Regions from separate parts of the Homo sapiens genome. Here region 1 is linked to region 2. The links come from fine-mapping of genetic effects on gene expression. A gene starts in region 2. The other region holds a variant in brackets. All regions are shown on one strand. Distances are from middle to middle. Region 1 overlaps RREB1 (ras responsive element binding protein 1). Region 2 holds the start of RREB1 (ras responsive element binding protein 1).

Region 1 (4,381 bases), 150 kb after region 2:
TTTGGTTTTGGTACTTTTTGTTCCTCTTTGTATTCAGTTGTATAGAACTTCCAAATTCAGAATGAGAAGAAAGCTGTTCTGTATCAAACCATTTAAGCAATAAATGTTATATTTTAAAAGCTGCAGATTGCCGGTCACGTGGCCGTCCTGTGATTTGTTGTGATCCCATCCCCAAACCCACAGCCCACTTGGGGCAGGTCCCAGGTGTGCAGTACCATTGGGGGGAGTCACAGGTGCCCAGGAAAGCTCTTGTCACCCAGGCAGCATTTTTATTTGCGCTGGAGGCTGTGGCAGTGACTCTTGCCTATGCTCCCAGCACTTTGGGAAGCCAAAGCAGGAGATTCACTTGAAACCAGAAGTTCAAGACCAGCCTGGGCAAAATAGTGAGACCCCTATCTCTAGAAAAAAATGTTTAAGAACTAGCTTGGCATGGTGGTACATGCCTGTTGTCCCAGCTATTTGGGAGGTTGAGGCAGGAGGATCGCTTGAGCCCAGGAGTTTGAGGTTGCAATGAGCTACGATCGTTCCTCTGCCCTCCAGCCTGGGGGACACAGCAAGACCCTGCTGTATGTAAAAGCACTCGGCTGCAGTTGTGAGAGCTGCTTTGAGAGCATGTGGAAAGTTAAGTGCATGGCCACTGTCAGAGCTTCAGAGTGGAGATCTTGGTGTTGGGTGCACAGGGCCAGGAGGCTGGACCTAATGAGGCACCACAGTGCAGGCCACTCTGTCATTGGCTAAAGCCAGCATTTTTGTTTCCTGTGCAATAATGCCTAAGAAGTCCGCCTCGCCTCTTCTTCCTCCAACCCAGTGGTAAGTGATTGAGTCAGCACCTAGTGGAGGGAGAACAAAATCTGTTAGTGTGACCAGATTTTGGTGAGACGGGAGGGGACAGCAACCCTAGGGCTGGGGATGGTGCAGGTTAAAACTCACATTTGGGTAAAATAGCAATCAGCAGAGCCCCAACTCCTAGCAGAGCCTCAACTCCTATAACTAGGGAGTGGCTCTCAAAAAGCAACACTGGGGGCTGGGTGCGGTGTCTCACGCCTGTAATCCCAGCACTTTGGGAGGCCGAGGTGGGTGGATCACAAGGTCAGGAGATTGAGACCATCCTGGCTAACACGGTGAAACACCATCTCTACTAAAAATACAAAAATTAGCCAGGCATGGTGGCAGGTGCCTATAGTCCCAGCTACTCGGGAGGCTGAGGCAGGAGAATGGTGTGAACCCGCGAGGCAGAGCTTGTATTAAGCCGAGATCGCACCACTGCACTCCAGCCTGGGCGACAGAGTGAGACTCCATCTCAAAAAAACAAACACTGGGCCGGGAGTGGCGGCTCACACCTGTAATCCCAGCACTTTGGGAGGCCAAGGCGGGAGGATCACTTGAGGTCAGGAGTTCGAGACCAGCCTGGCCAACATGGTGAAACTCCATCTCTACTAAAACTGCAAAAAAATTTGGGTGTGGTGGTGTGTGCCTGTAATCCCAGCTACTCGGGAGGCTGAGGCACGAGACTCCCTTGGACCCAGGAGGCAGAGGTTGCAGTGAGCCGAGATGCCGCCACTGCACTCCAGCCTGGGCCAACACAGTGAAACTGTCTCAAAAAAAAAAAAAAAAAAAAAACGAACACTGAAAGAAGTTGGTT[G/T]TGGAGGAGGCTGATTGTGGATAATGCTAAAATGCATTGAGTGCACTGTACCATACACTGCTAAGTGCCACCTCCCTGCAGGACCAGAGCTGTGGCTGTGGTCCTTAAGCTTTTTCAGGCCCCTCTGTTGAAAGACGTAGAATTTAACACACATTTATATGTGGGAGCTTGGGGGATCCGCATGCCTGAGTGGGCGGTGGCAGGTGGAGATGTACTAGCCCTGGGTAAGCGGATCTCAAACCTCAGGTCCTCCGCCCAAAGACATAGCCAACCACCTGCGCTGTGTTAGAGATGCAGGACAAAGAAGTGGCCACGAGCTGTGTTGCTGGGGACAAGCTGGCTGGCATGACAATCCCAGTTCTGCCTCTTCGGGCTGGTGAATGGCCTTGTGCCTCAATTTCACCATTCCTAAGAAAGGGATAGCGATAGTACCTGCCTCATGGGCACTGTTGTGTGGATGCTATGAGTTAATTACATAAGGTGCATGTTAGGGGCTCTCGTTATTGTTTCTACAGTCTTCTCATGGGAATGCTTCCTTGGTTGCCTGGTGAGGAAGTAGGTAGAACTTCACCACACACATTCATGGCACAGTGCGGGGAACAGCCAGAGGAGGGCCTTGTGGGAGATCACCAAGATGCAGGCACTGTCTTTGAACCCCAGGGAGTCTTGTCACCTTCTCCTACCTGGCCTCCTCTGGCCCTGTAATCCCACTACCTTCCCGCTCAGCCTGTGACCTCCCCATGGCCCCAGGACTCTGCCTGGGCCTTGGTGCTTATCCAGCATCCCCACCCTGGACCAAAGCCTCCTCCACTGGAGGAGGGCATGGGGCATGGGGATGGGGGAGCTGGCGGCATAGACCTAGCACCCAGGATGAGGCCTAGTCCCTTGTTACCTTACTGCTCAGAGTGTCGTCTGAAGACCCAAAGCATCAGCATCCCTGGGAGCTTGTTAGAAATGGCAACCTCAGGTTGACCTGGTGCGGTGGTGCATGCCTGTTGTCCCAGCACTTTGGGAGGCTGAGGCAAGAGAATCGCTTGAGGCCAGGAGCTCAAGGCTGCAGTGAGCTATGTTCACACTCCAGCCTGATTGACAGAGCGAGATCGCATCTTCACAAAAATAAAAACGTAAACCAAAAAATAAAAGAAATGAGAACCTCTGACCCACCCAGACCTGCTGAGTCAGAATTTGCATGTGAACAAGGGCCACAGTGGATATGTGCACACATTGAAGTTTGAGAAGCTCCGGTCTAGACCCCAAAGCTTGGTTCAGAATAAGGTGGATGGCGGACTCGGCAGCTGGCTGCAGAGACGGCTGTGGATTCTCCCCCTCAAAGACAGAATCCATCTCAGAATGAGTGGGCAGAAGCCACATATGGCTTTAGAGAGTGCCGATCTTGGCCCTCCAGAGGTTCCTTCCACAGTCCCTACTCCAGCCCCAGCACAGACTCAGCCACTGCCTAAACCCGAGTGCCCCAAGAGTCTTGTTTGGGGTTTCTGCCTGTTTGCCATCCTTGTGGATTCCAAAGGCTACTTTGAAAGGGCTGAGGAGCGAGTGGGGCCTCCAACCACTGGCCAACAGCGCCAGCTGCCTGCTTGCCTGTCCTGGTGTTAAGCCTTGGGCCTGGAGCGCTCAGGCCTCTCCCCTTCATAACCACCTCCCTGAGGAGGACAGGAGTGAGGGAGGATGACTAGGCTTATTTTAAGCTTGTAATTGAAGGTTGCTCTTTAGCAACAAAAGAGTCCCCTCCAATTCTAGACTGCCAGAGTCAGTGTCCTAAATAAGAAACAAGCGGTCACTCCTTTCCCGTTTTACTGTTAGGGGAAGGAAGCCACAGCCCAGTGGGGAAGTGACATCCCTGGCCCTTGCCGTTCACCACTTCAAGTCTTGCCCAGCTGTCAGGGCAGGAATTCATGTCCCCACGGTGGCATCTGCTTCCCAGGCTGTGGGGCCAGCAAGGGGCTCAGCTGCTCCCCAGCCCTGCCTTCCTCCATGGATCTGACATGACTCTTTTATGGGAATTTACGTAAAAGTAACGCCTTGCTCAGTGTGGAAAATTTAGGAGCTTCAGGAAAATATAAAGAAAATTAAGGAAGTCATCTCGCTTCTCAAATACCGTGTTAATTTGGTGAGTGTTGCTCTTTTCATTGGGCCTCACTTTTCCCTTCCTCATTCTCAGATGTGTTTGTACAGGACTTTGCACACTGCAGTGTTTTCCTGTGGTTTTTGTTTCTTTTCTTCACCCAAGTCCAGTGAGCTGTGAAGGAAAAAAAATCCTTATTCCTTCAGAGCAGGGACGAGCATTGAAATGATTTGCCCAGGTCAGCTGGCTATTGAGTGCTTTTGTTGGGATGAAATTCTCCACCAGAAAAATCCTAAAACAGAAGTCCCCAAGAATGGGTGGTGTGTGTCGTCCACTGAAAAGGGAGTTACTGAAAACTAGGAATGCGTGGCCTCTAGGAAACATGGCACTGTTGTGATTTGGCACATAGATATTTGGCATACATATTCCCAGGGTCACTGAGTAAATTCCCAACTGTTCCAGTTCTCTTTTGCTGCATGACGAAGAACACCAAAACTTTGGGTCAGGATTCGGTGGGTTGGGCAGGGCTCTGCAGGGATGGCTCATCTGTCCTCCATGAGGCATCAGCTAGGGCAGAGCCTCCAAGACCATTTTTTCTCGCTCATATCAGGTGCCTCTGTGTGTACAACCCACCCACTCACCTACCCACTAAAAGAACC
Region 2 (4,381 bases):
CAATGGAAGGGCTCAAATTAAAGGCCCACAGTTGGGCTTACAACTCTCCATGGTGTTCAAGCCTTCTCAGAGGAGCTGGTGTGGTGGAGCCAGGGTCAAAGGTCATAGTAAATAGAAAGTAGCCAGCTTTCTGCCTGCATAACATCATCTTGCCTAACCAGACTCAAACGCTTAATTCTACTGTAGTATTCTTTGGACATTCTTCTTTAGAACTACGGGGGCGGGGGGGGGGGGGCGTGTTTATTTTCAACAACCACAATCATCCTTATCTTTCTGAAGATGTTTCCAAAGGCTGAGAACAGACCCCTTTCAGAACCTCGGTAGGAGAAGTATTAACAGTTGGAAACATGTCAGCTGCTTTATGGAGGAAGCACAGCCCAGGCCTGGTTTCTCTGGGCTCCGTGATAACTTGGGGCAAGGCAGCCAGTGCGAAGCGTGGTGGCAGGAGCTGGAGAGATGGAGAGCGGCTCGGAGAAGGGCCCCTGCTTTTCAGAGTTGAAACAGGAGCCCTCTGAGAGAAAGAGATACTGCGTGTGGCTTCTCTGAAGCCTTGGAGGGCGACGTGGATGACACAGCATCAGCCATTCCATCGCGGGGTGGGGACACAGTGGCGGCAGGAACCGTCCTCAGCCCCTGGCGGCCACGGCAGTTCCCCGCTGAAGCATCCTTTGTGGGGTGTGGGTAAGGGAGGGGGACCAAAGTCGGGTCGGAGTTGAGTTTGTTAGACGGCGAGCACACTCAGGGCGGCAGCCCGAGTAAGAAGGATGGCCCCGGGAGAGAAACGGCTCGAAGCTAGGGGCGGGGTGAAGCGCCTGCTCCTTAATCTCCTGCCCCATCATCCACTCGCCCCACCTGGATGCAGAGCGAGGACCGCGTGGAAAGGAAACGGCGCGGGCGGGGCTCCCCCTCGCAGATGCCTCGGAGACCCAGAGGGGCGGCGTCAGGCCAGGGCCCCGAGCCCTACGCCCCCCATCCCCCCAACTCCAGCGCCTCTGAGGTGCCCCTCTCGCAATTCCGAGGCATCACCGTGTCTCCCCCGCCTCCGTTAAAATAGTGAAACTGCGGAGTGAAGTGATGGAAAGCCGGGGGCGGGGAGTCGCCCGCGGCGAGGGGCTGCAGGGGAGGGGGCGCGGTGGCCGAATAAGGTGGCCCGCGAGCAACGGGACGATTGGGATCGCAGCCAGTCGCGGCCTCCCGGACCCTTCCCCTCGGGCAGCCCGGCCCTCCCATGGCCCGGGGCGCCTTGGGAGGGCGTAGGGCAAACCTGGGGCTGCGGTGGGGGGTGGGGAGGGGACTCCACCTCCATCCATCCCGGGATGGCAACTGCGGTCACCCTGCTAAAGTCGGGGCGGGGGCGGCGGTCCTCCCCCTCACCCCCCCCAGTCCGAGCGCCGCCGCCGCCGCCGCCGCCGCCGCCGCGGCCGCTCAGTAACACGTCCCCAGGAGACTCGCAGGAGCAACACGTGATGTGTCTACTTATCAGGGTGAGAGGGGGAGAGCGAGACTCCGAGCGTGCGGGCGAGGAAGCTGGGCGGGGGGCCGAGACGGGGGCCGGGACGACGGCTGGGGCGCCGGGGTCGCCAGCTCCTCGCCCACCTCCCTCCCTGTGGGAGAAGAGGAGGAGGGGAAGTGACTGCGGAGTTGATGAACTTTGCACATCCAGAAACGCCATTTTGATTCCTTTTCCGGAACAAGTTTGCATCTCTCCTCGGTCTCTCCCTGAAGCCCACCGGTCCCCAACGCATCATGCCAGGGAGCCAAGCGTCCTGCCCGGCCGTAAGTACGTGCCCCGGATTCCGACTCGCGGTACGCCGGCGGCAGCGAGAAGTCTGGGGCACAGCCGGAGCGACCTTTTAAAGAACTTTGGGGATGGGGAGGGTGAAGTCTGCAGAGCGCGTTGTACTTTTGAAACTCGGTGTGTCCCGGAGCCGGGGACCCGCACGCCCCACTCCGCGCAGCGTGCGCTCGGGCCGGCGGGGCGGCCAGGGATGAGCGGGGCAGCCCTCTCCCCTCGGGCTGCGCGCCGGGCCATTCCTCCTCCTCCTCCTCCTCCTCCCCTTCCTCCGCTCTTTTCCCTTTCCCGAGCCGCCGGCTCTGCCAACCAGCTCCCAGCGCGAGCCGCCGCAGCGCCCCGCCAGCAGGACCTGATGCGCATCCATATTAGCCGTCCGAGCGCAGGAATCCGGCCCGACCCGCGCCGCCGAGTTTATTTTTAACCAGCACCGCCGGGACTCGGATGGTGCGCGCACCGCCGGCCAGAAACATCTTCCCAGCGCTGCTCTCCATCTTCCGCCCTCTCTCCCTCGACATCCTCCCCCCCATGTGGGAGGGGAAACTTTTCTCCTACATACTTTCGAGTCCTTCTCGGGCCGGGAAGCGCGGAGATGACGGCGCCCGCCCTCCCGCCGCCGCCCTAAGGTATCCGGGGGTGCCTGCCCGGGGTGCTCGCGCGGGGGTGCCTGCTCGGGGCTGCTCGGTGGGAGCATCCGCCGCGCCCTGCTCTGCGGACTTTGAACCTCCCGGGCGGACGGCGCCGGCCGGGAGGGGGCCGCGGGCAGCCCCGCGCCCTCGCGGGTTCCCGGCTGGCGGTCGTGGTCACGCCGACCACCGCCCCGGGGGGCCTGGGGAGGAGGGGACCGGGCCCTAGCCGTGCGGGCACGTATTGTTCCCTCGCCCTTCCGTTGGCGGGGTGAGTGTTTTCGTGGGAGCCCTCGGTGTGGAGCTAGCCTGCCTCGCGGGCGGGGGGGGTGGGGGGCTCGGCGCCGTCACGAGCACAGGAAGGAGGCCGGGAGCATCCGAGGCGGGGCCGGCCGCCGGGGCCCGCTCCGCCGCCCAGCTGTGGAGCGCGCTCGGAAACTTTTGTCCGCCGCCCGCTGGACCAGTTTTTCACGAGTTCTGGGGCTTCCCTTCCTCCTCCCATCCCGGCCCCCGGCGTCTAGCTGGGTGGGGGGAGGGGGCCTGTTGCTGCCCCCCCCGCCCCCAACTTCCCGCACAAGCCTTGGGCCGGGCCCCCCGCGCCCCCTCCCCGCTCGCGGTCTCTTAGGAAACTGCGACCTTAATGGTTGCTAAGGAGCAGGGGAGGTCCTTCCCGTCGCCGACCCCCTCCCTGGGAAGCGGCGTGTTTTCTGGACCGGGCCAAGGGCGCGTCGAGGATGTGACCTGCTCCGCGGCCGCGCGTGAGTGCGGGGCGCGTCGGCCGAGCCCACCGATGGGCGAGGCCACCTTTCTCTCCGGGCGGGGCGGGGAGCTGGGGGACGCGGGGACCCCACGGGGTGCGGGCCCGGGCCGCTTGACAGGCGCCGCGTGCAGCTCGCGCCCCTCGGCCGCCGTGCATCCGTGATGGGTTATAAAAGAGGAGGAAAGTATTTCTCCTTGCTCAGCAGATTTGCCCTCCCTCGCTCCTTACTGGTTAGGAGATAGAACGTGAGCCCAGATCCGGACGAGCAGTTCACATTCCATTACGAAATTCTACACGGCTTCAGAGCCAGCAGCAGCACACATTCGGGGCACTTTGGAGGGGTTTTCTTCGTTTGAGGATGCTCCTGCTGCTGCTGCTTGTGATGGTGGTGGATGTGGAGAGAGACAAAAGGGTGAATAAAAAAATATAACGTTTTGGTATGTTGAAAAACCTGTCCGGGGGTTTTCATTAGTAGAAAATTGAACCCTCTTAGAGTTTAGATTTAAGCTTAGCTCTTTAAAAGCCAGTGGAAATAAAGTTTGCCTGTTGAATGGTGTTGCTGGAAATAGCGAGGAATTTCTGTCTTAAGAAGAAATGATTTCTGCAAAGGCAGAGTTGCTAGTGCATCTCCATTATTTTTGATATTTTTTTTCCCCTTTATATATGTAGTGGACCCTGCATGTGTGCGAGTTGATTCTGAAATAAGTTTAATTGAAGTGGAAGGTGGGGAAAAGAGAACTGCCAAGAAAAGAATGTGGTTTAGTTTTGTTTTTTCACACCCATGAAAATCATCCTCTAGATTTGGTGCTTTTTCAAGTAGGCAGGTATAGTTTCTAAGACATATTTCAACCCGGAAGTCTGAGTTAGATAGAGGCCAAAGTGTTGGCTAAAACCTCTTTGAAAAACAAACGTTGAGTTTTGTGCTATCTTCAAGAGTCCACAGAACTTCTGAAGGAATGGGTTCGAGCTACTCTACAAGTAATTTATACAAAGACAGAATCACTAATTTTAGGGGTGGTGTGTGTGTGTGTGTGTATGTGTTTACCTCCGCCCTTTGGAGGGAGCCTTCTGGGTACCCGCTGATGGGTCCTGCTTTGATGTGCTTTGAGCTTTGGTTACACTGATGAATTAAACATTTGAATGGCTTTAATCAAGTTTTAAATGTGTTAAAAAAATACCTTTCCCCCATTTTTACAAAAGAAA

What was found.
Region 1: its variant is fine-mapped to the expression of RREB1 in monocytes after interferon gamma (Fairfax 2014, PIP 0.95).

Annotation. Positions count from the first base shown.
Region 1 is chr6:7,251,856-7,256,236 of GRCh38, forward strand. RREB1 (ras responsive element binding protein 1) reads left to right here. Exons shown (of 13, transcript NM_001003699.4): 13 at 1-125. Among named protein-coding and RNA genes, the nearest start is that of SSR1, 59 kb to the right of the region's middle. The variant G/T (reference allele first, on the strand shown) is at 1,643.
Region 2 is chr6:7,106,285-7,110,665 of GRCh38, forward strand. RREB1 (ras responsive element binding protein 1) reads left to right here and starts at 1,677. Exons shown (of 13, transcript NM_001003699.4): 1 at 1,677-1,776. RefSeq lists an enhancer at 486-545 and silencers at 896-1,375, 1,436-1,655, 2,446-2,935, 2,956-3,045.